Linked DNA regions of Homo sapiens. The protein of the gene in region 1 interacts with the protein of each later gene in a pairwise test. Each region holds a gene or a part of one and is shown in the gene's direction. Other genes may lie near its edges.

The links.
Region 2: the proteins of GATM (region 1) and RPUSD4 interact in binary tests that used the Homo sapiens proteins (3 or more experiments, as listed by UniProt).
Region 3: the proteins of GATM (region 1) and LPIN1 interact in binary tests that used the Homo sapiens proteins (3 or more experiments, as listed by UniProt).
Region 4: the proteins of GATM (region 1) and SIRPG interact in binary tests that used the Homo sapiens proteins (3 or more experiments, as listed by UniProt).

Annotation. Positions count from the first base shown.
Region 1 is NC_000015.10:45,361,528-45,368,550, reverse strand, and holds part of GATM (glycine amidinotransferase, mitochondrial isoform 1 precursor), read left to right. Parts: intron 1-290; coding exon 291-481; intron 482-2,042; coding exon 2,043-2,180; intron 2,181-2,340; coding exon 2,341-2,505; intron 2,506-3,690; coding exon 3,691-3,754; intron 3,755-4,534; coding exon 4,535-4,651; intron 4,652-6,329; coding exon 6,330-6,442; 3' UTR 6,443-7,023. UniProt on the Homo sapiens protein: Transamidinase that catalyzes the transfer of the amidino group of L-arginine onto the amino moiety of acceptor metabolites such as glycine, beta-alanine, gamma-aminobutyric acid (GABA) and taurine yielding the corresponding guanidine derivatives.
Region 2 is NC_000011.10:126,208,648-126,216,521, reverse strand, and holds the start of RPUSD4 (pseudouridylate synthase RPUSD4, mitochondrial), read left to right. Parts: upstream 1-4,871; 5' UTR 4,872-4,883; coding exon 4,884-5,072; intron 5,073-5,466; coding exon 5,467-5,632; intron 5,633-6,799; coding exon 6,800-7,001; exon of another isoform or gene 7,002-7,028; intron 7,029-7,874. UniProt on the Homo sapiens protein: Catalyzes uridine to pseudouridine isomerization (pseudouridylation) of different mitochondrial RNA substrates. Acts on position 1397 in 16S mitochondrial ribosomal RNA (16S mt-rRNA).
Region 3 is NC_000002.12:11,742,475-11,749,643, forward strand, and holds the start of LPIN1 (phosphatidate phosphatase LPIN1), read left to right. Parts: upstream 1-4,157; 5' UTR 4,158-4,197; intron 4,198-6,058; exon of another isoform or gene 6,059-6,266; intron 6,267-7,169. UniProt on the Homo sapiens protein: Acts as a magnesium-dependent phosphatidate phosphatase enzyme which catalyzes the conversion of phosphatidic acid to diacylglycerol during triglyceride, phosphatidylcholine and phosphatidylethanolamine biosynthesis and therefore controls the metabolism of fatty acids at different levels.
Region 4 is NC_000020.11:1,654,765-1,661,876, reverse strand, and holds the start of SIRPG (signal-regulatory protein gamma isoform 1 precursor), read left to right. Parts: upstream 1-4,097; 5' UTR 4,098-4,162; coding exon 4,163-4,235; intron 4,236-7,112. UniProt on the Homo sapiens protein: Probable immunoglobulin-like cell surface receptor. On binding with CD47, mediates cell-cell adhesion. Engagement on T-cells by CD47 on antigen-presenting cells results in enhanced antigen-specific T-cell proliferation and costimulates T-cell activation.

The DNA of each region.
Region 1 (7,023 bases):
AGCCTTTGCCTCTTGGTTCAAGTGATTCTCCTGCCTCAGTCTCCCGAGTAGCTAGGATTACAGGCACGTGCCACCATGCCTGGCTAATTGTTTTCGTATTCTTTTAGTAGAGATGGGGCTTGACCATGTTGGCCAGGCTGCTCTTGAAGAGGATCAAGTGATCCGCCCGTCTTGGCCTCCCAAAGTGGTGGGATTACAGGCATGAGCCACTGTGCCTGGCCCTATATAGACCTTTTTTGTCTTGGAAATTAACACTACTGAAGTTGTCATGGAATTTTTTGGTCTGACAGGTTTATACAGTGCAATGCCTCGAGACATCCTGATAGTTGTGGGCAATGAGATTATCGAGGCTCCCATGGCATGGCGTTCACGCTTCTTTGAGTACCGAGCGTACAGGTCAATTATCAAAGACTACTTCCACCGTGGCGCCAAGTGGACAACAGCTCCTAAGCCCACAATGGCTGATGAGCTTTATAACCAGGTGAGTCCCTAATTATAGGCTAGCTTATTACTAACTTTTCTAAATGATCCACAAAGAGTAAGATAGAGATTCTCTGATACCTTGTATATATTATGCATTTTAGAAACCGAAAACATCATCTTATTTTTAAAAAGTGATTATTTTATGATGAATATGATAAGAGTAAATGATCCTATGATAATAATAATAATGGCTAACACTTTTTGGTGCTTACCTTGTTCTGGGTCCTGGGTTAAACCCTTTATTTACATCCTCAATCCTGTTTGTTTTTCACAACAACCCTAATCATACTGTAGTATCATTCCATTAGATGGGGAAAAACTTGCCTACAGGTGTACCACTGTTCATTAGTGGAACCAGAAAAGTCACTAGACTGAAGTTCACTTTCTTCTTCTAGAAAAAGAACCTGATCTACAGTTCAAATTCACAGTAAAATGAAATGTATGTCCCTTATTAAATCAGTTACCATTTGATCTTTTATAGAAAAAAATTTAAAAATCAAAATAGCTTCTGGGTTTAAAGACAGAAATAAATAATGAATTAGTTTTGCCACTCCCAATCAAATTTGGCAGGGGAAACATGGCATCTCGTTTTATGGTATGAGTTAAGCTCGGGACCAAATTCCTTTTCTAAAAGAACAGAATGACTTCATCCTGTTTACTTTCCGTACGGTTCATGGAATATTCTCAGAATCAGTTACTGCCTCTGTATCACTTTTTTTTTTTTTTTGAGATGGAGTCTTGCTCTGTCACCCAGACTGGAGTGCAGTGGCGTGATCTCGGCTCACTGCAGCCTCTGCCTCCCGGGTTCCAGCAATTCTCCTGCCTCAGCCTCCTGGGTAGCTGGGATTACAGGTGCATGCCACCATGCCTGACGAATTTTTGTATTTTTAGTAGAAACGGGGTTTCACCATGTTGGCCAGGCTGGTCTCGAACTCCTGACCTCAGGTGATCCACCTGCCTTGGCCTCCCAAAGTGCTGGGATTACAGGCATGAGCCATCTCACCTGGTGTGTACCATTTTTTTCTAAGTACATAGTGCCCCTTCATCCTCAGGGGATATGTTCCAGACTCTCAGTGGATGCTGATACTGAACTCTATATATTTTGTTTTTTCCTGTACATATATACATACCTATGATAAAGTTTAATTTACAAATTAGGCACAGTAAGAGCCTAACAACAATAATGAATAATAAAATGGAACAATTATATAAATATACTTTACTAAAAGTTAGGTGAATGTGGTCTCTCTGTTTCTCTCAAAATATCTTAATGTTTTGGGACGACAGTTGACTGAAGGTAACTGAAACCATGGAAAGTGAAATCATGGGTAAAGGAGGACTGTTGTATCAGGAAATTACTATAATGCTAGTTTCTTGTTTTATTGTTGTTTTGGTTTATTTATCATGGACCCGCTTCTTTCCCAGGCATGTTTTAGTCTAGAACTGAGTAGTAATATTTTGGGAAATGATGTTAAACTAATTTTCTTAGTACTGTATGCCTTATGAATAATTTTCTCATGATCCAGTGCATTGTGTGTGTTCATTCTTGTTCCAATTAGGATTATCCCATCCACTCTGTAGAAGACAGACACAAATTGGCTGCTCAGGGAAAATTTGTGACAACTGAGTTTGAGCCATGCTTTGATGCTGCTGACTTCATTCGAGCTGGAAGAGATATTTTTGCACAGAGAAGCCAGGTGAACGCAGGCTGCCTCTGAAATTTCACACTATATTATTGTATTCTTTACTTCCAAATTAAAATATTTTCATCCTAAATTTTTTTCACCTTGAATATTTTTAGTTTTCTAGACATAGAACCAAATATTTATCGATCGTATGTCTTTCTTTTGTTTTCAGGTTACAAACTACCTAGGCATTGAATGGATGCGTAGGCATCTTGCTCCAGACTACAGAGTGCATATCATCTCCTTTAAAGATCCCAATCCCATGCATATTGATGCTACCTTCAACATCATTGGACCTGGTATTGTGCTTTCCAACCCTGACCGACCATGTCACCAGGTAAGAGATTTCTTGGGACTCTGGAAAAGCAACAGAATCTAGTAACTAAAATAATTGCCACTTTTATTTTAAGCACTTCCATGGTTCCTAATGGTTCTAAATGACAGATTCAGCAGTACTCAACATTATTATGATCAAACATTGGATTCCTTATGGCTTATTACAAGATGTCCACCATGCAGAAATATACATAGTTGACACAATAATTAGTATGGGATCATCAGACTTTGGCCACTTGCTGTTGTCAGAGCCTCAAGTTTGTGCATATGTGTGTATTTTTATCAAACGATGGTGTTATAACTTGCAACAGTGGTTCCACAGCAGCGAATTTTGGACAAGATCATCCTTGCATGGCCAGGGCAATGCCACTGGGCAGTGGTTGTATTCCCTCTACAGTGGGGTAGCCTCCCTTTGGCCAACCCTGCTCTGTAGGGAAAAGTGAAGCCACTGCACTGCAGCTGGTCTATCCCCTTCACCTGCAGCCTCCTACTTTCTGTCCATAGCCTCCTACTTCCAGTTAGGTGATGAGTGATTTTCTGTTACTTGCAAGGCTGCAGTACAACTTTTAAAAACCACTGTTATACTGTGTCACTGTTCATTTCTGTTTTTTATTTTTAAACCCGATGACCATGACTACTTATTCATTTCATTTTATTATCATTTATTCGTATAGTAAGTGGGTATGTGAACACAGGGACGGCTAAGTTGTAAAAGGTCACTAAGGACAATATGGTTCTTTGAGAATGCATAGCTAACAACTGTCTTTATACCATGGTCCTAGATACAAAATGATGGGCAAGAAGTAGAAGGACTGTGGGTTTGATGTAGTCACATTTTTGTTTTCTTGTAACTAAATAGGAAATTTTTCAATTTTTAAAATGAGAATTTCTTAAGGACAGTATCTTTGGTTTTTTAAGTCTCTGAAACCTGAGAAAAGTTAAGACTATCTTTAAAAGCTGTAACATTTCTGTTACTTTTTAACTTTAATCTGGGGATTTTATGTACATTTTTAATTAGGATTCAGACAAAATCACCCAAATGTTTAGAAATTTTAATTTCTTTCTTTTGGAAGCTGAGAAGACAGCTTCTCAAAGAGAATTATTACTGATAAGGGCTATTAGAGACTAATAATAATAATAGTATATGTAGATTTAACGGTTTTGGGGGTTTTTTTTGGTCTTACAGATTGATCTTTTCAAGAAAGCAGGATGGACTATCATTACTCCTCCAACACCAATCATCCCAGACGGTATGTTTACTTTCATACACTGTTAGACTAAAATAATTACTTTAGTGACCAAGGATCTTTCTCCTATAGAGAGCAGCCCAAATGTTAGCAGCTTAGAGAATGTGTTTCCTCAGTAAGGTGTGAAGTGGTGCTTGGGACTGTGAGCATCAGAACAAGGCTGGGACTTGTGTTTGCAACTTTTTCATCCATAGAAAATGAAGTAAGGAGAAGACAGAATAAAACAACATCACGTAAAGCAAGATATGACTTTTTTTTTTTTTTTGAGACAGTGTCTTGCTTTGTCACCCAGGCTTGAGTGCAGTTGTGCAGTCACAGCTCACTGCAGCCTCAAGACTCCTGGGCTCAAGTGATCTTTCCACTCCAGCTTCCTAAGTAGCTGGGACTACAAATGCAGGCCACTATGCCCAGCAAGTTATTTTTTTTTATTTGTAGAGATGATGTCTTGCTGTGTTCCCCAGTGAGGCACCATCTCTGGGCAATAGTCTCAAACTCCTAGGCTCAAGGAATCCTCCTGCCTCAGCCTCCCAAAGTGCTAGGATTATACCATGCCCAGCCAAGATATGACTTTTAAAAGAAAACAGGGTGAAATTCAAATGTATAATGAGTACAGATTGATTCATACCATTTATAGATAAATTGTTTTAAGATTAAAATAAATGTTCACATGGAAAGTGAACTACTGAAAGAACTGAGCTGTCACTTTAATATTCTTCACTTGTAAATCCTTGCTTTAAACAAAAATGATAGCGGACATGGTTTAACAGTTGTTGCTGTTTTTAGATCATCCACTCTGGATGTCATCCAAATGGCTTTCCATGAATGTCTTAATGCTAGATGAAAAACGTGTTATGGTGGATGCCAATGAAGTTCCAATTCAAAAGATGTTTGAAAAGCTGGGTATGTACAACAAATGAAACATGTTGTCATACATGAAAACGTTAAATGAGAAGAACTAAAGAAATGACATGCTAGGTTTGATAAATGGTTTGTCTAATTCAATTTTGATTCCTTTTAGAGGCACCAAGTTATTATTTCACAGAAAGTCAGTATTTTTATTTTCAACACACGTAGCCCCAACAAGTTGGAGATGCATCCTGAGCTCCTGAGACATCCCCTTAACAATAAGTTTATAAATCTTATATGACTTAGCCAACGTTTTGGTGCCCATGTGCAGAAAACCACCCCTTTGCAGGTGAGCAGATAGCTTGTTCAGCCCTTCTTCAAATAAGAAATCATTGTGGGTCCTTTAAAAGTGTCCTGTCATCACATATTTCAAAGGACTCAAAAGGGTACGGATGCAGAAGTGACTTTTATGTGTGATAAGCATAGTTAACAAAGTAGCGAAATGCAAGAAAGTGTGTCAGTAAATCATTCAGTTTTGAACTGAAGAGCAGGACCAGGTTTTACTTAAGTAGTTTACTTATCCTGATATTCAAAATTTAGACCAATGATTCTAGTATTATTGAGAAAAATGTTGAAGGGAAAGGATTTTCATATGAGCTATTATAAAGGGGTGTGTGTGTGTATTTTGAGACAGAGCTGTGTCGCCCAGGCTGTAGTGTAGTGGCGTGACCTCGGCTCACTGCAACCTACACTTTCTGGGTTCAAGCGATTCTCCTGCCGCAGCCTCCTGAGTAGCTGGGATTACAAGCATACACCACCATGCCTGGCTAATTTTGTATTTTTAGTAGAGAGGGGCTTGGCCAGGCTGGTCTCGAACTCCTGACCTCAAGTGATCCATCCACCTATGCCTCCCATAGCATTGGGATTATGGGTGTGAGCTACCATGCGCGACTAGGAAAGTCTTTCTGAATGGCTCATGCCACCTTCCTCTCCCTGGCTATACCAATGGACCCTTTAGTGACTTTGTAGCCTATCCTCCTCTCAAAATAATTAGCTCCTTGAGGAAGAATAATAGATTTTCTTTTTAAAACCCCACTATATCTAACACAACAGATTCTTCCTAAATACCATTGGTTAAATAGGCCATGCACATCATAGCCTTGTCATTACAGATGGTACCAGATTAAACTGATTGTTGGATTTGCTTTGGTACCTGTATAACCATACAAACCCAGATATTAAAACACCAGCTCTGTTCCATTGTTTCCTTATGGTGGCCTGGTGAAGTTAATCTGTATCAGATAAACTCTCCTTATATGTGAATATGTAAAGTCAGCTTTTTAGGTCAGCTAAATTTTGCTTTGCCTACTAAATTAACATGGTAAAATTAGAAACAGTCTGACAAAGTAGTTAATGTATAATTCTAAAAGGCCTTGAGATTTTAGTACTTGACCATTTTGAACATTTGGTAGGTACATCTGCTCAGTCTATTGACTTGTGAATAGTCAATAGAACAAAACTTCAGAGTTCTCTGTTGACTTTTTGGAGAAGATTTTATATTAGCAGATGAAATATAGTTGGTGAAAATAAAATTGGAAGAGAAAATACTATTCTGGGTTGGGTATCCTTAAGGATTAGAACCACAGGACTCCTCCAAGTCTGTAGGCCTACTTTCTCTATGAGAATCGTCATGTTAGTCCATCTAACTGACCTCATCTCTCTTTCAATGCAGGTATCACTACCATTAAAGTTAACATTCGTAATGCCAATTCCCTGGGAGGAGGCTTCCATTGCTGGACCTGCGATGTCCGGCGCCGAGGCACCTTACAGTCCTACTTGGACTGAACAGGCCTGATGGAGCTTGTGGCTGGCCTCAGATACACCTAAGAAGCTTAGGGGCAAGGTTCATTCTCCTGCTTTAAAAAGTGCATGAACTGTAGTGCTTTAAACAATCATCTCCTTAACAGGGGTCGTAAGCCTGGTTTGCTTCTATTACTTTTCTTTGACATAAAGAAAATAACTTCTGCTAGGTATTACTCTCTACTCCTAAAGTTATTTACTATTTGGCTTCAAGTATAAAATTTTGGTGAATGTGTACCAAGAAAAAATTAGTCACCTGAGTAACTTGGCCACTAATAATTAACCATCTACCTCTGTTTTTAATTTTCTTTCCAAAAGGCAGCTTGAAATGTTGGTCCTAATCTTAATTTTTTTTCCTCTTCTATAGACTTGAGAATGTTTTTCTCTAAATGAGAGAAAGACTTAGAATGTACACAGATCCAAAATAGAATCAGATTATCTCTTTTTTTCTAAAGGAGAGAAAGACTTAGAACATACACAGATCCTAAGTAGAACCAGGTAATTGTCTCTTTTTCTAATAAGGAATTTGGGTAATTTTTAATTTTTTGTTTTTTAAAAAATAACCT
Region 2 (7,874 bases), on another chromosome or scaffold:
CATGTTTCAAGAATACTGATGGTGTTGACCACTTACTGTAAAGACAGAGGAAAAGAGGAAAACAACTGAGTGGTTGCCTCTAAAGAATGGGACTTTGAGGTAGGGAGGGCAGAGAAACGGTTTTTGTTTTGTTGGGTTTTTTTTTGGTGACAGAGTCTCGCTCTGTCACCTAGGCTGGAGTGCAATGGTGCGACCTCGACTCACCGCAACCTCCATCTCTCCAGTTCCAGCGATTCTCCTACCTCAGCCTCCCAAGTAGCTGGGATTACAGGCACACACCACCATGCTCAGCTAATTTTAGTATTTTTAGTAGAGATTGGGTTTCACCATGTTGGCCAGGCTGGTCTTGAACTCCTGACCTCAGGCAATCCACCTGCCTCAGCCTCCCAAAGTGCTGGGATTACAGGTATGAGCCACTGGACCTGGCCTGAGAAACTGTTTTTTAATTCCAAATCTTTTATTACTATTTGACTTTTAAACTGTATTACACAAATTACTTTTTCTTTTTTGAGATGGGTCTGTCTCTGTCACCCAGGCTGGAGTGCAGTACTGCAATCATGGTTCACTGCAGCTGCAGCCTTGAATTCCCGGGCTCAAATGATCCTCCCACCTCAGCCTCAAGGGTTAGTTAGGACCATAGGTGCGTCACCATGCCCAGCTAATTTTGTGATTTTCTGTAGAGACGAGGTCTTGCTATGTTGCCCAGGCGATCTCAAACTCCTAGGCTCAAAAGATCCTCCCCGCTAGGCCTCCCAAAGTGCTGGGATTAAGGTGTGAGCCATGCACCCCACCCCCATTTAGGACATTTTTTTTTTTTTTTTTTTTGAGACGGAGTCTCATACTTTCACCCAGGCTGGAATGCAGTGGCGCGATCTTGGCTCACTGCAAGCTCTGCCTCCTGGGTTCACGCCACTCTCCTGCCTCAGCCTCCCGAGTAGCTGGGACTACAGGTGCCTGCCACCACGCCCAGCTAATTTTTGTATTTTTAGTAGAGACAGGGTTTCACCGTGTTAGCCAGGATGCTCTCCATCTCCTGATCTCGTGATCCGCCCACCTCGGCCTCCCAAAGTGCTAGGGTTACAGGCGTAAGCCACCGCGCCTGGCCAGAAATCTTAAAAGTATATTCCAACACCACTCAATGAAGTAACCTCCAAACATAAACATTAGCTCAGTGGCAAAAAGTTAAATTCTGGGGACAAGAGCAGAATCCAGTTTCTTAGTATCAATGCTAAATGTATTCAAGATAAATCTGAAATAAATCCCACTAATTCGGGCTGAAAGAGAAGTATTTCAGTATCAGTGGAAAATCTTCATAGACTAGAAACAGAGTTGCAAAAATCTTTCAAATGACAAAAAACTGAAGCCCAAATTATTTGTTCAAGTACGCAGCGGCTGAACTGGAACTAGTCCCACATCTCCTGGCTCCCAATGACTGTACTTTCCAGGGCACCTCCCAAGAGTTCCTGCTAATTGCCTCCTTTAATCTCTCTAAAACCATAAAACAATGTCCAAGTACTTCCTGCTCTTCAAGGAAATGGAATCGCTGGTTAATCTGCAACTAGCAAATCACAGTTTGAGGAGGCGTAACTTAACTTTATACCACTAATTAACCTTAAATTTGTGATAAACGCAAGTTCCTTTATTAGTTAGTCCTTGTTTGTTTATATTTGCGAAATACTAATGCAGCCTTTTTGTTCCTGAATAGACTAGGAAATATCTTTAAAAAGAAACTATCAAGTTCTTCTTTATATGGTTACTTTAGGGGCACATATTATGATATATCAAAATCAATGTAAATAAGTCATGTTTGAACAGAGCCGTAGTCTGCAAGAATGAAGAAATCACTAATAGAATTTCCTTCCTTGTTCTAAGAAAACATTTAGACAAGAGGAGTTCCCAACAAATGGACTGTGACATTGGCGCAGAAGTGGAAAAGTGAACTGCCTAAAAAAGGACCAGCTGAATGAGGAACAGGGAGGAGGCAATATAGAGGTAAAAAAAAAAAAACAAAAAAAAAACAAAAAAAAAAAACAGAAACAAAAGAGTTTTTTGCAGTGGCAGTATTGCAGCCAATGAGGTTTATCTGAGGGGTGATTATTGCTCTTTGAAAATTGGAAAAAAAAAAAAAAAAAAGACATGACATTTGCATAAATTCTTTTTTTTTTTTTTGAGATGGAGTCTTGCTGTGTTGCCCAGACTGGAGTGCAGTGATGCGATCTCGGCTCACTGCAAGCTCCGCCTCCCGGGTTCACGCCATTCTCCCGCCTCAGCCTCCCGAGTAGCTGGGATTACAGGCGCCTGCCACCGCGCCTGGCTAATTTTTTTTTTGTATTTTTAGTAGAGACGGGGGTTTCACCATGTTAGCCAGGATGGTCTCGATCTCCTGACCTCGTGATCTGCCCGCCTCAGCCTCCCAAAGTGCTGGGATTACAGGCGTGGGCCACCGCGCCCGGCCACATAAATTCTTTATACTGAGAACAACTCTACTTTAAATCACCAAGTGCCTAGACTCACCGGAGAAACATTAAGGATGTCATAACTTATGTACCCATACTGGCTAAAGCTGCACTGTCATACCAAACAAAAACTTTGAATTCTTTAAATTTCTCTACAAAGTTTCAACAAGACAAACCTAAAAGTTCCTTCTCCAGAAAAAAGGGACCAATATTTTTATTCTTAAGTCACTAAGTGTGTGCTTTGAGTTAACCTGAAACCCTAGAGCATAAGCTCTGTGTCACTAGCAATGACATTTGAGTTGGTTCTTCATTTTGTTTCCCGCCACAGAAGGCCAACTCTGCAAGAACAGGTGTAGTTTCTTGAATGCCATAAGGTTAGGGTAGAAACAGCCTCTCCCATCCCCGACACAAAACCATAAAAGTCCTGTACCCAAAACAAGTTTTTAATTAATGTAATGATATGAATTTAAGTCCCGATGTCAAAACTTCAGGGTCCTTGGAAAATTGAGCTTCAAGTATCTAAGTAATATGTGATGTTCAAGTGAAATTAGAACCTAGGTCTGGAGCATGGAAGGTAATAATTCTTTTAGGGTGGAATTTCTCAACTTTTATAGACCTCTGTCTTACTGGTAAATTTGCAGGGGGTGGGTGGGGAACAGGAGAAACAGATGTTTCCCAATCTCCCTTGGAAATCTTTGCATTTGTATCTGGATCTGCATTTACACCTGCCTTATAAGAGAAACGTACACAAGCCTTGCTTCTTTCCCACTTTACAAATACATCTTCCTCTACCTTCATTCTTCAGGCCAAACATTGACAGAAATAAGACAATTCAAAATGTTCAGACACACCTAGCATACATTTATGATGCACTTCAGCCATCTAACAGATATCGAGTTTACTATGTGCCAGGTGAGTGGATTAAAAAAAAAAATTCTTCCAGGGACTCACAGATCAACAGCAGCTGCCAAGAGTACGCCTTGACCTGCATAACTCAATTAATTCAAACTCAAAGGAGTTACAGTGTAGGGGGAAAAGACCAGACCTCATCACTGACCACCTAGATTGTAACTAGTTTTCCTACTATCAAACCCTTTCCTTCCCCACTATCAAACCCTTTCCTTCCCCATCTGTCCTGCATTCAACTGCCAGATTCATTTCCAGAATTCCACTTTCAAGGAGTCTCTCTGCCCTACTCGAAAAGCTTCAAAGACTCCTCACTACGTATCACCTCTAGTTCAAACTCTTCAACTTGAGTCTTCTATGAGTAGCTCCACCTGATCAACTTTGTTTCTTGTTGGTACGGCTCCCTTCTGCCAAACCCTTTAGGAGGTGTAGAACCCAAATCTAATTCAACTACCTATTCTCTAATAACTCCTCAGGCAGCCTTCATTCCAAGCAGTCTTAAAAAATTGTTCCTTCTATCGTCACAGATCCATTAGTTTTCAGGACATTCTTTCTGAACTCAGCATAAGCTTTCCTCTTAACAAATGGCAGGTATATCCCAAGTTATTTTTAACACTACCATCCCAAACAGATGTTTATCTTCCCAGCCACCCCTGAGTGAAATCAGAGGGAGTCGCCTGCAGTTCGGGCAAGGGAATCCCAACATCGCATCTCGTGAGAGGAGGTATGGTGTGGTTGCAAACTATGGAGAGGAAAAATAAAGGAAACAGGAAAAGTGAAGGTCTGTGCTCCGTTCTTTCAGCTTTTTCTTTAGGAGGAGTAGGGAAGGTAGGGAGGAGACCCCCAAGAAATGAATTCTTGAGGAAGGGCAGAAAAAACACTCACAGTGCTTCCTAAGTAGGAAATAGGTGCTGGGGGCCCTGGATAAGGGAAGGGGCCGTCATCCTTAGGAGAAGGGTACAGGTTACAACGCGAAACAAAGAGGCTGGGAGTTGGAAGATGAAGGGTGGAGAGACTACAGAGATCCGGGCATCCGATCAAGAGGGTCCCCGACGCGTCCCGCAGGGGACTGGCGGATCACCGGAGATTCAGTGGCTAAGAGGGACGGCGTCGGTGCCTAGGAGGGCTCTGGGGCGAGCGTTTATGGGACATCGCTCCTAAGGGGGCGCGGGGGCGGGGAGGAGTTTTTGAGTGGGATCGTGTACCAAAAGGAGAAACGTTTCTCAGACCAGTGCTCTTCTTGAACGGAAATCCCGGGGACGCAGAAAACGTTAAACCGTTGAGGCACCGGCATTTCCCAGCCCCAGCCCGGCTTCCCTACACACTCACCGAGTCTCCTCCAAACGCCACTGCTCCAGCTGCAGCTACCGGCCGGCGCAGCCGCACTGAGCGCGCACCGTCCCCACGTGACTCGCCCAGGCCCCACCCCGCACCACGTGACCTGCAGGGCCCACCCACTCCCGCCTCATTGTAGTCGCCCTTCTCCACGTGGTCTTGGCTCGCCCCGCCCTTCCTTGTAAGATGGCGGCGCCCAGGTGGAGCGCGTCGGGCCCCTGGATCCGGGGAAACGGCCAAGGTTGCGGGAGTCTCTTCACTCTCGTCTCAAAGCCATTTTGTGCCGCTGCCGCTGCCTCTACGGCCATAAATGCCCAGAGATTAGCGGAGAAGCTCCGAGCCCAGAAACGGGAACAAGACACAAAGAAGGAGCCGGTGAGTCCAAAGGGACCAGAACTCCCTAGAGGCAGTGCGCTCATTGGTTTCCCAGACGGGGAGTAGGTAGGAGGGTCCTCTGAGTGAAAGCGTGTGAGTCAATAGCCCGGACGCAAGGTGGGAGAATGGGGAGAAGGCGGAGGGGAGGGGTCAGTAAGGGTACGGTGTTTTCCCGTGAGCTGGATCTTTGGCTACTGTCAGGCTCAGTCCTAACCACTGCGTCGGTACGCAGGTTAGACAGATGGGTATCTCTGCTCTCAAATTAGTCGAAGGCGGCGCGGGTCTGATGCAAAGATAGTCATTCCCTACTCAGATTCTCACCCAGACCTTTATGGAAGGTCTTCTCCACGGCTTCCGCACCAGGCATTCCCCACGGCTCCTTCTTTCTCCCTAGGTGTCCACAAACGCTGTTCAGCGGAGAGTGCAAGAAATAGTGCGGTTCACACGGCAGCTGCAGCGAGTCCACCCCAACGTGCTTGCTAAGGCACTGACCCGAGGAATTCTCCACCAGGACAAGAACCTTGTGGTCATCAATAAGCCCTACGGTCTCCCTGTGCATGGTAAGGACCACGCGGGAAAGGTGGAGGAACCTGCAGCTGCTTTCTGCTACAACCGAGGAAAACTGAGACGTTACTTGTGGTGCACTCTAAAGCCTTGCATTCAAATTAATTAAACTTTTGTAAACTACCGTCCAATATAAGGAACCACCGAGAACACAGAAATAAATAAATAAGACAGTCCTCCCTTTCTAAACATCTGACAGTAAGCAATTCGTAGAATACGCTGTGTGCAGACTACAGGGATCGCTGTAGAGATATACAAAGGCTGTGTGGTTCTAGACTAAAGGTTATCTTCCATCAGAACTGGGAATGAGAAAATGATACATAAGAAAAAAGGGGGTGTGTGTGTGTGTGTGTGTGTGTGTGTGTATGTATGTTGGAGTATATGTAACATACAACCCCAGAGTGACTGGAATTTAGTGGACCTTCAAATGTCTTTCAACAGATGTTGCATGTAGTTGTCAGGGACAGCTGAAGTGAATCAGGAAAGATTGATTTAAAAAATGCATTTGTGAAAGAGGGAAAAGGCCCATTTTAGCTAGAAGAAGGTAATGCTTTTTGGGGAGATACGGAGATAGTTGTTCACAAAGACAAGGAATTAAATCACATCACCAAGTGTTTGTATAATTTTTTTCTCTCTTTATTTTCGCAACAGTTTTTTGCCTTTCCATTCCCCAATGAAGTTGTTTTCCAGATATTTACATTTTATAACGAGAAAGCAAAGTTGGAAAGAGAAGTAATGTGTCCAAGGTCAAAAAAATGGCTAGTAAGAAGAGTAGAGTAGAACCCCAGGAATGTCTAACCCCGAAGTCTATCCTCCTAATCACTCTTATTTAATGCTTCTCGAAGGCCTCATGGTTTTTCAAAGTATGTCTGAGAGGAAGCCACATGCTCTAGAATGGTGTTTCTCAAACTTTAATATGCTTCTGAATCACTTGGGCAGCTTGTAAAATGCAGATTCTGACTGAGTAGTCTAGGTTGAGAGCCTGAGATTCACTTCTAATAAGCTCCCTAGACATGCCATTGTTGCTAGTCTCTGGACCACACTTCAGTAGTAAGGCTCTAGAAAATATTGACAGTTTATCCATTAAGGGCTTTTCTCCCAAGGAGAGTTCTTTGGCGAGATCTTTTCCTGGCCGCTCAAACCTTTGGCTTTTTCCTTCTTAGGTGGCCCTGGGGTCCAGCTCTGCATCACTGATGTACTACCTATCCTGGCAAAGATGCTTCATGGCCACAAGGCAGAGCCCTTGCATCTGTGCCACCGGCTGGACAAGGAAACCACAGGTGTAATGGTGTTGGCTTGGGACAAGGACATGGCACATCAAGTCCAAGAGTTGTTTAGAACCCGTCAGGTGGTGAAGAAGTACTGGTATGAGGCCTGCTGATGGCAGTAGAGGTGGTATAAGTGGAGGCATTTCTTTCACCTATTTATTCATTAAAAACAGAAACTCCCATTAATAGAAGGCACTGCACTATGACCTGCGAGATTGTAAAAAATATGTGAAACAGCTTTGGTGCTTAGAATATTAAGTCTGATAGAACAGTGGTTCTTAATTCTGGTATACATCAAAATTATCAAAAATTAATTATACAAGCATGGGGTGGACATGGTGGCTCACGCCTGTAATCACAGCACTTTGAGAGGCAGAGGTGGGAGGATCACTTTAGGCCAAGAGTCGGAGAACAGCCTGGGCAACATAGTGACACCTTTTCTCTATAAAAAGTAAGAAGTTAGTCCGGTATAGTGGCACATACCTGTAGTCCCAGCTACTTGGGAGGCCAGGGTGGGAGGATCACTTGAGCCCAGGAGTTTGAGGTTACAGTGAGCTATGATCACACCACTGCACTCCAGCCTGGGTGACAGAGTGAGATCCTGTCTCTAAAGAAAAAAAAATTAATTAATTATACAAGTAATATATGATTTTATTCCCATGCTAAAAATAGTCAAACAACAAAGATCATGTGAAAAACTCCTGGAGAATCCACCCATTCTGCCATTCTAGTGTTTTCTCTTGAGGTAACAACCCATGTAATCAGTTTGGTTTTTTTTCCTCTGGTTCTTACTCAACGCATTTACATATATGTCTAGTGTATACAGTATACGCGTGTGCGGCGTACGCAGTATACGCGTGTCCGGCATACGCAGAATATGCGTGTCTGGTGTACGCAGTATATGCGTGTCTGGTGTATGCAGTATATGCATGTGTACATATGTATGTACACATATATATCTATATATATA
Region 3 (7,169 bases), on another chromosome or scaffold:
ACACTTGTTTAGCAAGGTCATGGGTCATGGCGACTCAGAGGACTGACTCATGGTGATATGCGGGGTCTTTTTGTTCCTCCTGGAATTAGAGCCCACTGTAACAGTCCACACTTCCCAGCATAGCAGCCACTGTTTCTAAGTAATGGAGTTCTCTCCTCCCATCCCTGGTCATGTTGAGGTCTCTTTCCCTGTCCGCTCCTCGCACCTTGGTCTCTTTCTTCTTTCCTGCCTCTCTGCTGTTCTGTGTCTTAGCCCCGCTCATTATGAATTGTTCCCAATCTGACCAGAGGAGAAAGGGCGTTCCAGACCCCCTCTGGCTTCATCCAGTGGGAGACAGGCATGGGGCTTGCTGTGAGCTCCCGAGCTCCCCCGCCCACCAGCGGCCAGCCACGGCCTTCTTTCAAGCACCTGTGCGTGCCTGACTGCTGTGCATGTGCTGCTGGCTGGCCCGTGGTTCATTCTGCTCCTTGACACCTGGCCTAGATTTGCCTAGGTCGGTGCCTGCTTAGGCCACCAAGGTCAGGTGAATCCTCTTGCTTGGGGACAGGGCAGGTCAAATCCTGCATCAGTGCACGGCCCTTCAGTTCACAGCGGCCTGAAGCACTGTGACAGTTTTTACGCGATCACAACCCAGACTGTGCACTCCCTGAGGACAGACACTGTGTCTGGTCTGCTCCCCTTTGTAGCCCCCAGTGCTCAGCCTAGGGCCTCCAAGATGCTCCTGTGTGTCCAGCTGTCAGCCTTTATCACTCTGCCACTTCCTGTGCCTCAACTCTAATCTGCAGGCCCTGCCCTAACTGTGAAGTGGGCCTCTGGATAGCCCGGGTGACCGTCAAAACCTTCTGTGCTTTGGTTCCAGCTGTTTGCTCTCCGAGGATCACTGTCCTCTCCCTGCGGAACCCAGAACCTTTTACACCTGCCTCTTCCCCATGAAACTTCCCTGCTCAGCCAGCCACAGCACCCAGGGGGCCCCATTCCACCTTGGGTGGATTCCCAGGCTGCTCTGTTCCCTGCCACCAAGGTAGTGAAGCGGCACCAGGTGGCCCCTGGTTCCCACCTGGTTCTTAAGAGAGTGCGCAGGACAAAGTCACCTCGTGAGGGGCCCCCAACCAAGGAGTGGCCTTAGACCCCGAGGAGATGCCCTCCCTTCCCCGGAGCCCCAGGCACTGGTGCCAGGGATAAAAGTCTGCACCTCTAGGGGAAGAATTCATTGTCCTCTCTTTGGGATCCTTTCTGCCCGGGCAGTTACAGAGCTAACCATGCTCAGAGTCCTGGGGGATCAGCCAGTGTTTCTCCTTCCTACAGTAGCTCGCAGGGCACCCGTGAAGAGGGATGCTCATTCTTCCCGCCTACCTTGCCCCAGGTATTCTGGGCCTGTGTAGGTGGTTGATCTGGACAACTTCAGAGTTCTCGGGATACAACAGCTACTGTCACCAGCTGGGCTCAGCAGTGAACAGATCCTTCTGGGAATGGCCACTCCTCAACTTATGGGGTTTTAGAATTGAAAAATCTTCCAACCCCACAACTGTGACAGCAGCTTCCCATGATGCCTTTTTCATCCTCAAAGCAGATCTGTGTCATGTGCACCTGCAGCCCATTTCCTGGATTGTGAAACTGAGCCTCTAGAATCAGGATGCTTGTGCTGGCTTTGCTAAGGCATTACTCAGCCCCTCCTTCCTCCTCCAGTCAGCTAGAGCAAGATTACTCATCCCTGGAGTTCCTTCTCCTCTTCCGAGTGCAGCTAGGTCCTGGGATTGGCCAGGGGGATCGCCTCAGCTCTCCTGGCTGAGTCACTGCTCAGTCAGGCCTGGTTGCTGATAGCACAGCCAAGGGCCCTCCCAGGGGGACTCCAGCCAGTGCCTGATCAAAAGCGCCAGGGCTTTGGAAAGTCCGGTTTCGTTTATCGCCTGGGAGTGCACTGTGATCTAGTGAGTGTTTTCTTCTCATTGCTTGTTTATACAAAAGGCTCCCCCCAACCCTTGGCCTTCCCCGAGGTGGTAGGCTGGGCAGCAGCGGGACCTAATTTGCTCTGAATCCAGCCAGACCCTGCTCATCAGAGCTGACCCTAGCCGTGCTGGGCCCCCCAGCTCATCATTTTCAGAATGAGGGCTTTGAGTTGAATTGTCCTATATTTTCAGACCTCCCATCTCCACATTTGAATAATGGACTTATTTTACACAAAAAATAAACTTAAGTGGCCTGAAGTTGGACTGGCTTCCTGGAAAGCCTTTCCACATAGAGTAGACTTCTTCCCAGGCCAGCTCCTCCCTGGAGGTGGGAGGGGAGGGTGCAGGAGGGCTTCCTTCTGGGGCCTTGCAACCTCAGCAGTTTTGGGCAGCCGTGATGCACTTGAAACTCTGGTCTCTGAGAAAACCCCTGTGGAGGTAGCTCACCTACAAACTGCAAGATTCTCTTTGTGTAGCTCCCACGTCTGCAATGTCAGCATGGGACAGGCTGCCTAGATAGGAGCTGCCCCAAGCCCAGCGGGAGCGTGTCCACACTTGACCAGATGGACGGGAGCCGCGCCCCTGGACAAAGCTCTCCAAGCAGCTGTCCCCAAACATCTATCTCAAGCTTGCTGGCTTATCCAATTCACTAAGCTGCCGCATTCGATGCTGTTTCTAAGCTGGCCTCCTCCCTGGCCCTCTGCATCTCAGCAGAGCAGCGGTTCCATCTCCACACTGAGACTTGCCTTTGAGTATCGCATCACACACCTCCACCGGTTCCATTCATCAGTAAGCCTGTGGGTTTTGCCTCCAAATCTCTCTGAAGTCCTTCCGCTTCTTGCTGAGTAGCCCCTGTAATCTGAGCCACCATCATGTCCCCCGGTTTCCTGCAGTGCCACCTGTCTGCTGGCTTCTACTCCTGCAGTCCATTTTCCATGGAGTGGAGGGGTGACTTTTTAAAGAAGTAAATTAGATCATATAATTCCCAGGTTTAAAATTCTTTTTGGACCAGGCGTGGTGGTTCACACCTGTAATCTCAGCACTTTGGGAAGCCAAGGTGGGAAGACTGCTTGAGCCCAGCAGTTTGAGACCAGCCTGGGCAACATAGGGAGACCTGGTCTCTACAAATAGTTTGAAAAATTAGCTGGGCGTGGTGGCATGCACCTGTGGTCCCAGCTACTTGAGAGGCTGAGGCAGGAGGATTGCCTGAGGCCAGAAGGTGAAGGCTGCAGTGAACCGAGATTGTGCCACTGCACTGTAGCTTGGGTGACAGAGTGGGACCCTGTCTCAAAAAGAATTGGTTTGGAATAACATTTAAATAATACCTAAACTCCTTGCCTTGGCCTACAAGACCTGAATATTTGGCCCCTGCCTTCCCTCCAGCCCACAGCACCGGCCCCAGGACCTTTGCACCTGCCATTTCTGCTCTCCAGAAAGCCCTGCCTCCTCCCCATCTTTGTAGTCATAGGTGTTTCTTGTCATTTAGAGTTTCAGTTCAAATATGACACCCTCCCATTGATGGAAATCATTTCACCACCAGACGTTATGTGGCTCATTGTTTATCCGCTGCCTGCCTCCCGGCTGGAGAGGCGCAGGGAGCTGCCTGTCCCTCCTGTTCAGAGCCACCGTTCCGCACCTGGACCACCGCTTGGCAGAGGCGGGAGTGGAGGCTGTCACCATCAGGATGAAGGACAGGGGTGGCCCGGCGTGGAGAAGCTAAGAAGAGATGGCGATAGGTCAACGCGATTGCGCCTTTAAGGTGGAAGAAACGAAGGGCGAGGGTCAGTAAAGTCAAGGACGGGCTCAGATCCCGCCACTGGTGATAAGCGGGACCCATAGGACCGACGTGATCGCGGCCAGGCCCTGGGTGGTTTACCTGGACTTTTACCTGGCTGCCTTTTCTCTGCACCCCTCCGTCCTCACTCCCCCAGTCATCGGCATAGGTCAAGTCAGAGTGTTGAAGAAACACACGAGTTTGGCTCTGGAAAGGAAAATCAGAAAGGCGGCCTAAGGGGCCCCACCCCCAGGAACGCTAAGATAGGCGGCCAGGGGTGAGCGGGCAGGGCCGGCCAGCAGGCCCTGAAAGCAGCCGGGCCACCAGCGCGTCCCGAGTCCCCCTCGCACCGCCCCGCTTGCCCCGCCCCTGCCCTCTGCCCCCGCCCCTGCCCCGCCCCCGAAGGCGAGCTGCGCTGACAGCCGGCGGCGGGCTGGGTGTTTGCAATACAAAGGCGGCCACGCGCGGCGCCGCTCGGTGAGTAGCCGCCGCCTCCAGCCTCCCGCTGTGGAGCAGGGGCCGCAGCCTCGGGTTAGGCGGGGCGGGGCGCGGCGCCGGGGCGCTGAGGACGCGTGGCGAGGCGGGGGCTCGGCCCCGGGGCCCGAGGACCGACGGCCGGGCTACGTCCCCGGGGCCCTCTACGGGAAGTGGTTCGGGGGAGGGAGGCGGGGAAACAGGCCCCGGAGGCCGGGAGGGCCTCGCGAGCATCCCTCGGGCCTGGCTTTCCTGACGCGCCGCGAGGCCCGGTGTGGGCCCGGCTTGGCTGATCTCGAGCGGCGTAGGGGCCACTGGGGGCTGCCGCGCAGTCCCAGAACCGCGGGGACTAGCTCCAGCCGGCCAGCGCGGGTGCGTCCTGGCTCTGCGCGATCATCCCCAGCTTTGCGCCGGGGACTGGGATGAGAGCCTTTCTTTCCCCCGGAGTTAGGATTCCAGCGCTGCAGTTGAGGAAACTGAGGCTCAGGGAGGTTGACCTCTGTGCCCAAGGTCATACAGTTGCCGGGCGGCAGGGCAGGCTGAGCCCAGGTTGGAATCCCGGTTCTCATATTACAGCTCTCCCCTGCGAGGCCTCTGCACCTTTCTTGCAGCCTAGGAGGTGCTAGGCCTAGTGAGCTCCGTCAGCTGCTCCTGCACGTAATTTTATTATGGGCAAGGCCAGGAAAATGCAGGATGAGAAGTAACGTTTTGGGAGTAACTTAAGTGCTGTGGAGCTAGAGTAGGTAATTTGTGTGGTCAGTAGTTGCTGGAGAAAGCAGATGTCAACCCTGTTTTTGATCAGCAAGCAGGAAACCAACTAAGACAACTGGCAGTATTAATTTGGAGATGTTTTAGAACCCGGCAGTTTCCCACAGGATAGAAGTGTTTTGGGAAATCAAAGCTTGTAGCCGTTTTTTTAATTGGGGGTGTTGTGGTATGGTGGTCTAGGGGTAGTGATTGTGAGATTGACTGTTTATCCTTTGTTCCGTAATTTGGGTCTTATTAATGAAAGTAAGCAGTTGAGGAATGTATAGTATTTGAGAAATAAGCACATCCACACATGAACACTTTTCTTGCTCCCAGATTCTTGTTGAAAGGTGTAACAGTTGGATTTATGATTATATACTTTGATAGCACTTCACGTTTGCCAGCATTTGTTATTGAGTGTTTTTGTGCATGGGTTGTGTGTTTTGGCGCTTATTATTCCTATTTGCATGTGGGGCCCTGTGGTCCTGTGGAGCCAGGCCTGGATATAGCCCTGGACTCGGGTCGGGAGGTCTGGGCTCTGCCTGAGCTCTGTGGGACCCTGAGCGAGTTCTTTCACCCACCCAGGTCTCGCTTATCAGCAGTTCCTTTCTTTTAGAAAAGCACAGGGGGACAAGGGGCGGACCTGCTGAGTCTTGTGGTGTGGGAGAGAACGCGAGGGTTCAGGTGAGAGACCGCAGGGATTCCTGGTTGTAGGGGGGACCTTGGAAGTGACTGAGAAGGAGCCTGCCCTGGATTAGGTGGGGACAATTGGCCTGGCCCAGCCAGAAGGAAGTCTGTGGGTCCTGCTCTCCTGCTCTTTGCGTGGTCAGCTGCACAAAGGGCCCAGAACAGACGGCAGGGGAGGGTCAGGAGATGAAAAGATATTTCAGAAGAAGGTCCTGAGGCCACCGTGGTCTGAGATGCGCCGAGGCCGGCACAGAGCACTGGGCTTTGCAGTTGTTGTTCTGACCACTCACAGATGTAGAACTTGGGCAGAAGACTTCAATCCTCTGAGCCTCAGTTTTCCCATCTGTAAAATGAAGGGATAATCATACCCATTCACAGGATTGTTGCAAAAATTAATTGAGATAAAAAAGAGCCCCTGGAACATAATATGGGGTCCACGAATCATTGTGGTTGTTATGATTTTAAAGTGCCACAGGGTGCCAGCGAGGAGGGGCTCTTTGTGGGGTTGGGACAGTCCTGGCTGACGCCGGCCTCTGCTCTGTAAATCATCCCTGTGGGACACCCCCTCCCCCTGCCTGCCACCTCTCTTCCGGTTGGCTTTTCCGGACCATCTGTGTACTGGGTTCAAGGCCTAAAAGGTACCTAAATGAGGTTAATTGATTTGGGCAAGCCTGCCAATGGGGGTAGTCGAGGGGTACAGGCAGCTTTTTCCTTAGGGTGGGAGGGGGCTGTTGCACGGATGTCGGCAGCTTTTGGAGCATTTTGAGAGACATCCAGGTGTTAGGTCCCGCCAGGACACCGAGGCTGGTGGTTCGACCTGTTTGCACTTGCACTTCCTCACTGGTAGCCCGGGCGTGGGATCTTGGAGCTTTTGAGGGGTCCTGAGGAGGAAGTCCCTGGAATCACCCACTAGCAGCTTTGGGGCTTGTTCCTTGAGAAGGGCAAAGTCACAATTTTGACACTTTATTGAACCCTGGACCAATGTATTGTATAATAAGCCCACTCATTTAAAACTGGAACGGGGTGTGTGGGGAAAAAAGAGTTGGGACAAAACCCAAGCAAAGCCGTTCAGTGACGTCACAGGTTCTTCATTCAGAAGAGGCCCAGGTGCCTATCGGATGGCTGTTTCTGAAATGTTCGCTTTCTGAGCTGTGAGGGAGGGTCTGGAGAGAGAGAGGGGCCCATGCCTGTGTGTCGAGGGGACACACCCACACTGGCCCTGCTCCTTGATCAGAGGATGCACCAGCGCCTGAAGGGAATCTGTGCCCCCTAGGAGGCCACACTGGGCCCTGGGGCTGCTGGGGTCCGAAGCAAGTGCCCTGACCTCCCTTCCTGTGGGTTCCCTTCCTCTTCCTCTTTCCACAGCTTTCCCCTGTCTGTCTCCCTACCTGTAATTCACCCCAACAAGCCCTTAGCAGCTGGGGTTGGGGTGGGGTCTGTGCAGCCAGGGATATGTTGAGTAGTGAGTTTCTGCCTGTAGAAAGCTCTGGGTCTGGGCTGACCCAGACCCAGGCTGACACTTTTCACAATGAGGTATGTGG
Region 4 (7,112 bases), on another chromosome or scaffold:
TGAGATGAGTGCCTCTGAAACAGAGAGCAGGTTCTGGGGCAGTGGACCTCTCTCCAGTACTGGCTAAATCTACCCAGGCCTGGGAACCCCAAGCACAGACATCCACAACTTCCCAGAGATGGCAACTGTGTCCACTTCCTCTTTCACAATGGAGGATTGTCCCAGTCTCATGGCCCTTTCTCCCTACAGCTACCTCACTCCTCAGACAACATAGCAGATAAGCAGATGCCCTCCTTTCCTGCAGAGTAGAGTCTGGATTCTCTCCATGAGACAGTCTGACAGGGCAGGCAATGTCCATCCCTGTCTCCCAGCCCATCTGGACAGCCCCTGCCACTTCCTCTGCTACCAGGACTCACAGGTGAGTGAGTGCAGCCTGCTCTACATGAGTGTATTTCTACATGGTGTCTCCTCACCCTCTCAGCCCATGTTACCTGCTCCTATTGATTTACATTTGGGAGCATTTTCTTCTCTCCCATCCCAGCATGAGACAAGATTTGGAACAGCTTTTCCATGAGCATTTGAGTAGACCCTTACTGGGGTCATATTGATTCCCCCAGACGTCATGCCTATAGCATGCCCCTGGTGCTGGTAATGACTCCATGATTCTAGGGCTGGGCACATGACCTCAGCTCATCATCGTCGTACTCCACCTCCACCAGCCACTGGCCAAGGTTGTCACACAGCATCATAAATTCTTGAGGGCAGAGGATCTGTTTTTTAAAATTGTTGCTATTACCAAAACACTACCTAATAACGATAATATCTAACTACTATCTATAATGATAATGGTAATACTGAATATATAACTTTTGGAGGACATGGTCAGATAGTATTAAGTAATTTGCATATATTAGTTCATTTAATTCTCATCACAAACTTATGAAGATGGTATGATTATTCTCTCCGTTGTACACTTGGGGAAACTCAGGAAACAGGGAAGTTAATAGTGACCCCAGGATCACACAGCTGGGACCCATTAGAGCTGGATTTCAGACCAGGAAGTTTTGATTCTTAAGCCCACAGTCTTACATCTTTAGTCTTCTGGAGCATCCACTGGCTCCCAGTTTCTCATGTGTCCCAAAGTCGTCCCTGGTTATCTGCACCTGCTGTGATGAGTCAGGGTGAAATATGGCAGATAAAGGAGAATTTTGGCTCATGGACTCCCAGGTTCCTGGTCCTCTCAAACATTCAGATTTTATCTATGCTTCCCCAAGTCACCTAAATTTAAATTTCAATTCTCCACGTGATTTCCACAAAAATTGTAAGCATCTGTGTACTTAGTTGATCTTTACTGAAGGATTGAAGTTCACAGGAAGGCACTTGCTGCTCTAAGCACAGATTCTGCCATCTTCCTGACACTATACTATGCATTTTTGAGTCATATACGCCCAATTCTTATTTTTGGAGACATAATACTTTATGACTCACACCTCTCAAAGTAATGTAGTAATGTGGATAGGTAAAAATAGAGCAATAGGAAAAGATATACCACAATATTGTGGTATATTTTTACCTATCCACATTACTTTGTTTGGGTGTGTCTCTGTGCTGTACCACAGGAAATTTCCCCTACATAATCACCCAGCTTACTAACTTACTATTATACTTATTTATGTATAGTCAGCTAGTCAACCTATTAAGTTTTTTTAAAAAATTTCAGCACTGATTATGTTTTCATTTCCAAAGTCTGTGTTTTGGTATTTTTTCAAGATGGTTGTTGTTACCTCATGCCCGCCTATTTCTGTTTCATATTATTACATGCCTGATGTTGGTTTATGAATTTACTTCTCTTTTGTTTTCCTTATAAGATCATTAAGTATACTAACTTTAAAGAACTTTACACATTTTGTTTTTTCATATTTGCTCAGGTGTGAAGTTCTTTTGATTGCTATTTGTTTTTGAGTTATTGTTTTTCTTGAATTTGTTAGCTGCAGTGCTGTTCCTCAAATCTTTGGTGATTCTTGCTTGCACTTCCGTCTTCCCAGGAATAATTCCCCATGTGATCATGGGTTGTCAGGGCCTCGTGGAGCATGGCACCTGCCCCAGCCTCACTATGAGGGCTGCTCCTAATTGAGGCTATAGCTTCTTCTCTGCTTTCTTCCTGAGGGATGTCTCTCCCTTCCTGCAAGAGGTATCATAGTACAACCATTAAAAGTGAAGGCTGTGGAGTGTGGCAGCCTATGTTCCAGTTCTAAAAGCCGGGTGATCTTGAGCAAATTCATTACTCTCCATGTGCCTCGGGTTTTCTCACCTGTGAAAGGAGGTTAATGGTTGAGCTTACCTCATGGGGTCAGAGCAATGATTTAATGACATTACCAATAGAAAAATGCTTGGCACCATATCTGGAGCACAGGAAACTCTCAATAAATGATAGCTGTTATAATTCCTTCATGTCATATAGAAGCCAATTGCTTGTATTCAAGTGTAATTAGACATTGATTCATATATTCTTTTCATTTTGTGTTTTCACTACTGTGGGTGTGGAGAAGGAGGGGAAGATTTCACCCTGTGTACATCTGCCACATTAAAACAGGACTTTCAATTAAAACATGATAACATTTACAATTTGATTTGACAATTATTCATGACAGATTAAGAACCTAAAACCCACATGTGAGATGAAGGATTCTGGACAGGTCTTTCTTAGTCATAGATGCTGGAAGAGAAATCATTTCTTTTAACAAGGTGGCTTTTCTAAGGCACAACGGTGGCAGAGAACCAGTGGACTCTTCCTGTACACAGAAAATAATTATAGCCATGTTTTTTTGCTTATAATTAATTATGAGTCAAGCATTCAGTATGGCTTATATTATTCCTACCATAGCTCTACAAGGTGCATATTCTAACATTTATTTACATACAATCAAACCAAGGCTCAGAGAAGTAGTGTCTTTTTGAAAATCACACAGCTGGAAATTGTAAGAGGAGGAATTAATCTATGGTTGAACAAGGAGCGGGATTTAGAGAATCCAGAGGGAGAAACTGATTTCAGGGTGGCAGCGAGAGTCCAAATACACTATATAAGCTGGGTCTCAGGAGGCCTGGGTTGCTGGGAGAAAGCCACTGGTGGGCAACTCAGCATGCAGGAGGGATCCATTCAAAAGCAACATTTGAGTTCCCGCACTTCACCTGGCACCGTGAGTATCAATAATGACCTACTGGGTTTCAGGCATGATATGCTCATTACCTCTTTAATCGTCACTAAAACACTGCACAAAAAGACTTACTATTCCCAGTTTAGGAGATTGAAACTGAGCATAGGAGGGCCCAGCGACTTCCCCAACTCCTTGGCACACACTCTTGGCAGGAGCATGGATTTTTCCTCTTTCCTCATTTCCCATCCGAACTCAGTGATGAATGAAATAGGTGCTCTGTGTGTAGAAGAAAGGGTATTGAAATTGATGCGACGGCCCCAGGAACCTGCCCACCATAATCTTCCCTCATGATAACCCTATCCCCTTTCCATAACCCACAATCCCCACCTCACTCCACAAAGCAGTTGCTTATTACCTCAAACCCAGTTTCTCTCCTGGAAGGAGTCAAGAAATAATTCCTTCTGCTGGGTGCAGGCACATGAAAGTGCTAAGGTCCACAAGAGACTGAATTTGGGCTAAGTGTTGCCAATTATAGCAATTTGGAATAGAAAATCATTTCAGGAGAAGATCTGGTTCCTCTCCAGTGTTGAGCAGGTCCTGTGAACTCTTCTCCTACGTCCAGCGGAGTGGCATTTGGTTGAGGCTGGTGCAGAACAAGACCACAAGCCAACCACATCCTAGGGTCTTGAAATAAAGACTTTAGAAAACAATACCTAACAACAGATCTTTCTTGACTTAAAAGCCTCAAATGGCAAATCACCAAGAAGACCTGAAAATGGGTTTGGGGACACGAGGAGGGAGCACAGGTCCCAGGCAGGCAGGAAGCATTATTTCTGCTAACCCTGTCTGATTATCCTGAAAATGGAGCACGATTAACTCCTTGCTTTGTAGCTGCCTACTGTGCCTGATTTGTAAGTCACAATCTAGAAGCAGGTTACTGTTGCATTCCATCATAGCCACTTCCTCTTGAATTGAGGGAGGCAGGGCTTGTCTTCTGTCTTCAGAGCAGGGCCTGACATCTCCCCAGAACAGACGTTTGAACAGAGCAGGCTTCTGAGGTCTCCAAAATGCCTGTCCCAGCCTCCTGGCCCCATCCTCCTGGTCCTTTCCTGCTTCTGACTCTACTGCTGGGACTTACAGGTGAGCATTGCATTGGGCTAGAACCCTTTCTCCCTGCTTCCTGGACCTAGCCTTGCCCCTGGACTTGCAGCAATTTCAGATAAGCACAAGCACTGCCAAGGAAGGTCAAGGACTGGACATTGTCCAAGAGCAGAAGATCAGGGAGCTGAGCACTTTCTCTGTGGATCTGCAGCTGGCTACCAGAGGCATCAAACCTTGTGAGGCTTCTGCCACCATCACAATTAGTTACATTTTTATAATATTTTATTTGACAAACACAGAAGAATCATTATTAAATCCTTACCTGTCTTGAGTCCTCCTACCCATTTTTGTGTGCCCTCCTCCTCTTTAAGAAGTTCCACATTTCATGCTTACAGCGTCCTATATTCCTTTCTTAGGGCTTCCACAACAAAGCACCACAGACTCAGTAACTAAAACAATAGACATTTACTTTCTTTCTTTCAGTTCTGGAGGCTGAATTGCAAAATCAAGATGCCAGCAGGGTTAGTTTCTACTGAGGTCTTTCTCCTTGGCTTGTAGAAGGCCATCTCCTCCATGTGTCTTGACACATGGTCTTCCTCTGTGTGTGTCTGTATTCTCATTTTCTCTTATGAGAACATCAGCCATATTGGATTAAGGCTCCCCGCCAGTGACCTCATTTAACTAAATTGCTTCACCCATTTATGCCTAGTGCTCCGTTATTGGATCACTAAGCTTGCGGGAGTTATTTATATCCTACTGCTCAAGGGCATCGCCAAGGTCTGATTTTTCAAATTAAAAAAAAATTGCAACCTCGGGCATAAATGGGTTAAAGACCTTGTCTCCAAATATGGTCAAATTCTAAGGCGCTGGGGATTGGGGCTTCAACCCATTCGTTTTGGGGGCACATTCAGCCCATAACAGGCACCACCATCTCCCTTGGTCATCTTGACTTTCCTCTGGAGAATTTATTTTCCCTTCCCCCAGGCAGACAGGATTGGGAGGTCTTTCCTGGTGCCACCTGAGAGAGCCCTGTTCACAGCTCCCAGACAGGCTGCCTGTCTTCACCCCTTTTTCAGACCATGCAGCTGACCCCCGGTCACAGGGCTGGGCACAATAGCCTCTCAGTTGCCCACTGGGCCCTGCTGTGATGTCATCTCACAGGTCTTAGAGGGCAAGGTCTCACTTTTCAAATTATTTTTTTTACACATACACTGTACCCAAATGACAGCAGTAATAGTTCAGCAATTGCTCTCTTCCTGTAAGGCAGATGCACTTCTTAGCATTTTGTGTGTATTAAGTCAACTAATCCTCACAGCATCCCTGTGTGGAAGCTATAACTCTTGTGCTCTATTTGCAAATGGGGAGTGAGGCAGAGGCAGGAACCTGTTCATTGTCCCCTACTTCAGTCCATGGAGCAGTTGGGATCAAGTCCAGGTTGACCAGTTCCAGAGTTTATCACCCTTTTAACCATGTTATGCTATGTGTAGAAATATTAGAAAATGCAGGCAAGCAAACATTAGATTAATAATCACCCATCACACCAGTCAGAAACAATCAGAGGTAAAACACTAGTGTATGTATGTTTTCCCAAAATGTTAAAAATGTGTTGGATGGTTTCTATGTGCCAAATATTTTACTGAGATTTTTAAATTTGTCATAATTGTAATTAATGCACAAAACAACCTTATATACTAACATGATAAGCCAAACTTTTATATATATTTGTGAATGTGTATATATACACATTATATACACATATATATGCACATGTGCCTATGCATGTACATGTACATGCACAGATGAGATTTCATTTTTAATCATTGGTTCTCTTTCTATTTTCAGTGAAATTTTTAACAAAATAAATATTTTATTTTATTTTTATTTGACAAAAGTATGTATACTTATGTACAACATATTAAGAAATATGCATACATTGTGGAATGACTAATTTGAACTAATAAACATATGCATTACCTTACATATTTATCATTTTTTATTGTGAGAACTCGTAAACTCTGCTCTCTCAGCAGTTTTCAAGAATACAATTCATATTATTAAGTATAAACACCACATTGTACAATAGATATCTTGAACTTATTTCTCTTATTTAAATTGAAATTTTGTATCCTTTGACTAATATCTCCCCAACTACACCCCCTCTCTAGCCCCCGATAAACACCATTCTACTTTCTACTTCTATGAGCTCAACTTTTTAGATTCTTCATACGTGAAATCATACAGTGTTTGTCTTTCCGTGCCTGGCTTATTTCACTTAGCAGAATGTCCTCCAGGTTCATCCATGTTGTTGCAAATGACAGGGTTTCCCTTTTTGTAAGGCTGATTAGAATTTCATTGTGCATATATGCTACATTTTCTTTCTCCATTTATCTGCTGATAGACACCTAGGTTGATTCCATATCTTGGCTTTTGTAAATAATGCTGCAATGGACATGGGAGTGCAGATATATGTGTGACATGCTGATGTCATTTCCTTTGGATATATGCCAGTAGTGAGATTACCAGATCAGATAAGAGTTATATTTTTAATTTCTTGAGGAACCTGCATACTGTTTTCACTAATGGCTCTACTAATTTATATTCCCACCAACTGTCTGCAAGGGTTCCCTTTTCTCCACATCTTCTCCAATACTAAATTTCCTCTTTTTGATAATAGCCATTCTTAAAGGTGTGAGATGATAGCCCACTGCGGTTTTAATTTGCATTTATCTCATGAATAGTAAGGTTGGATTTTTTTTTATACGCTGACTTGCCATCTTAATGTCTTCTTCTGAGAAATGTCTATTCGGATCTTTGGCCCATATTTTAATAGGGTTGTTTTCTTATGGTTGAGTTGTTTGACTTCCTTATATATTTTGTATACTGACTCCTTATCAGATGTATGGTTTGCAAATGTTT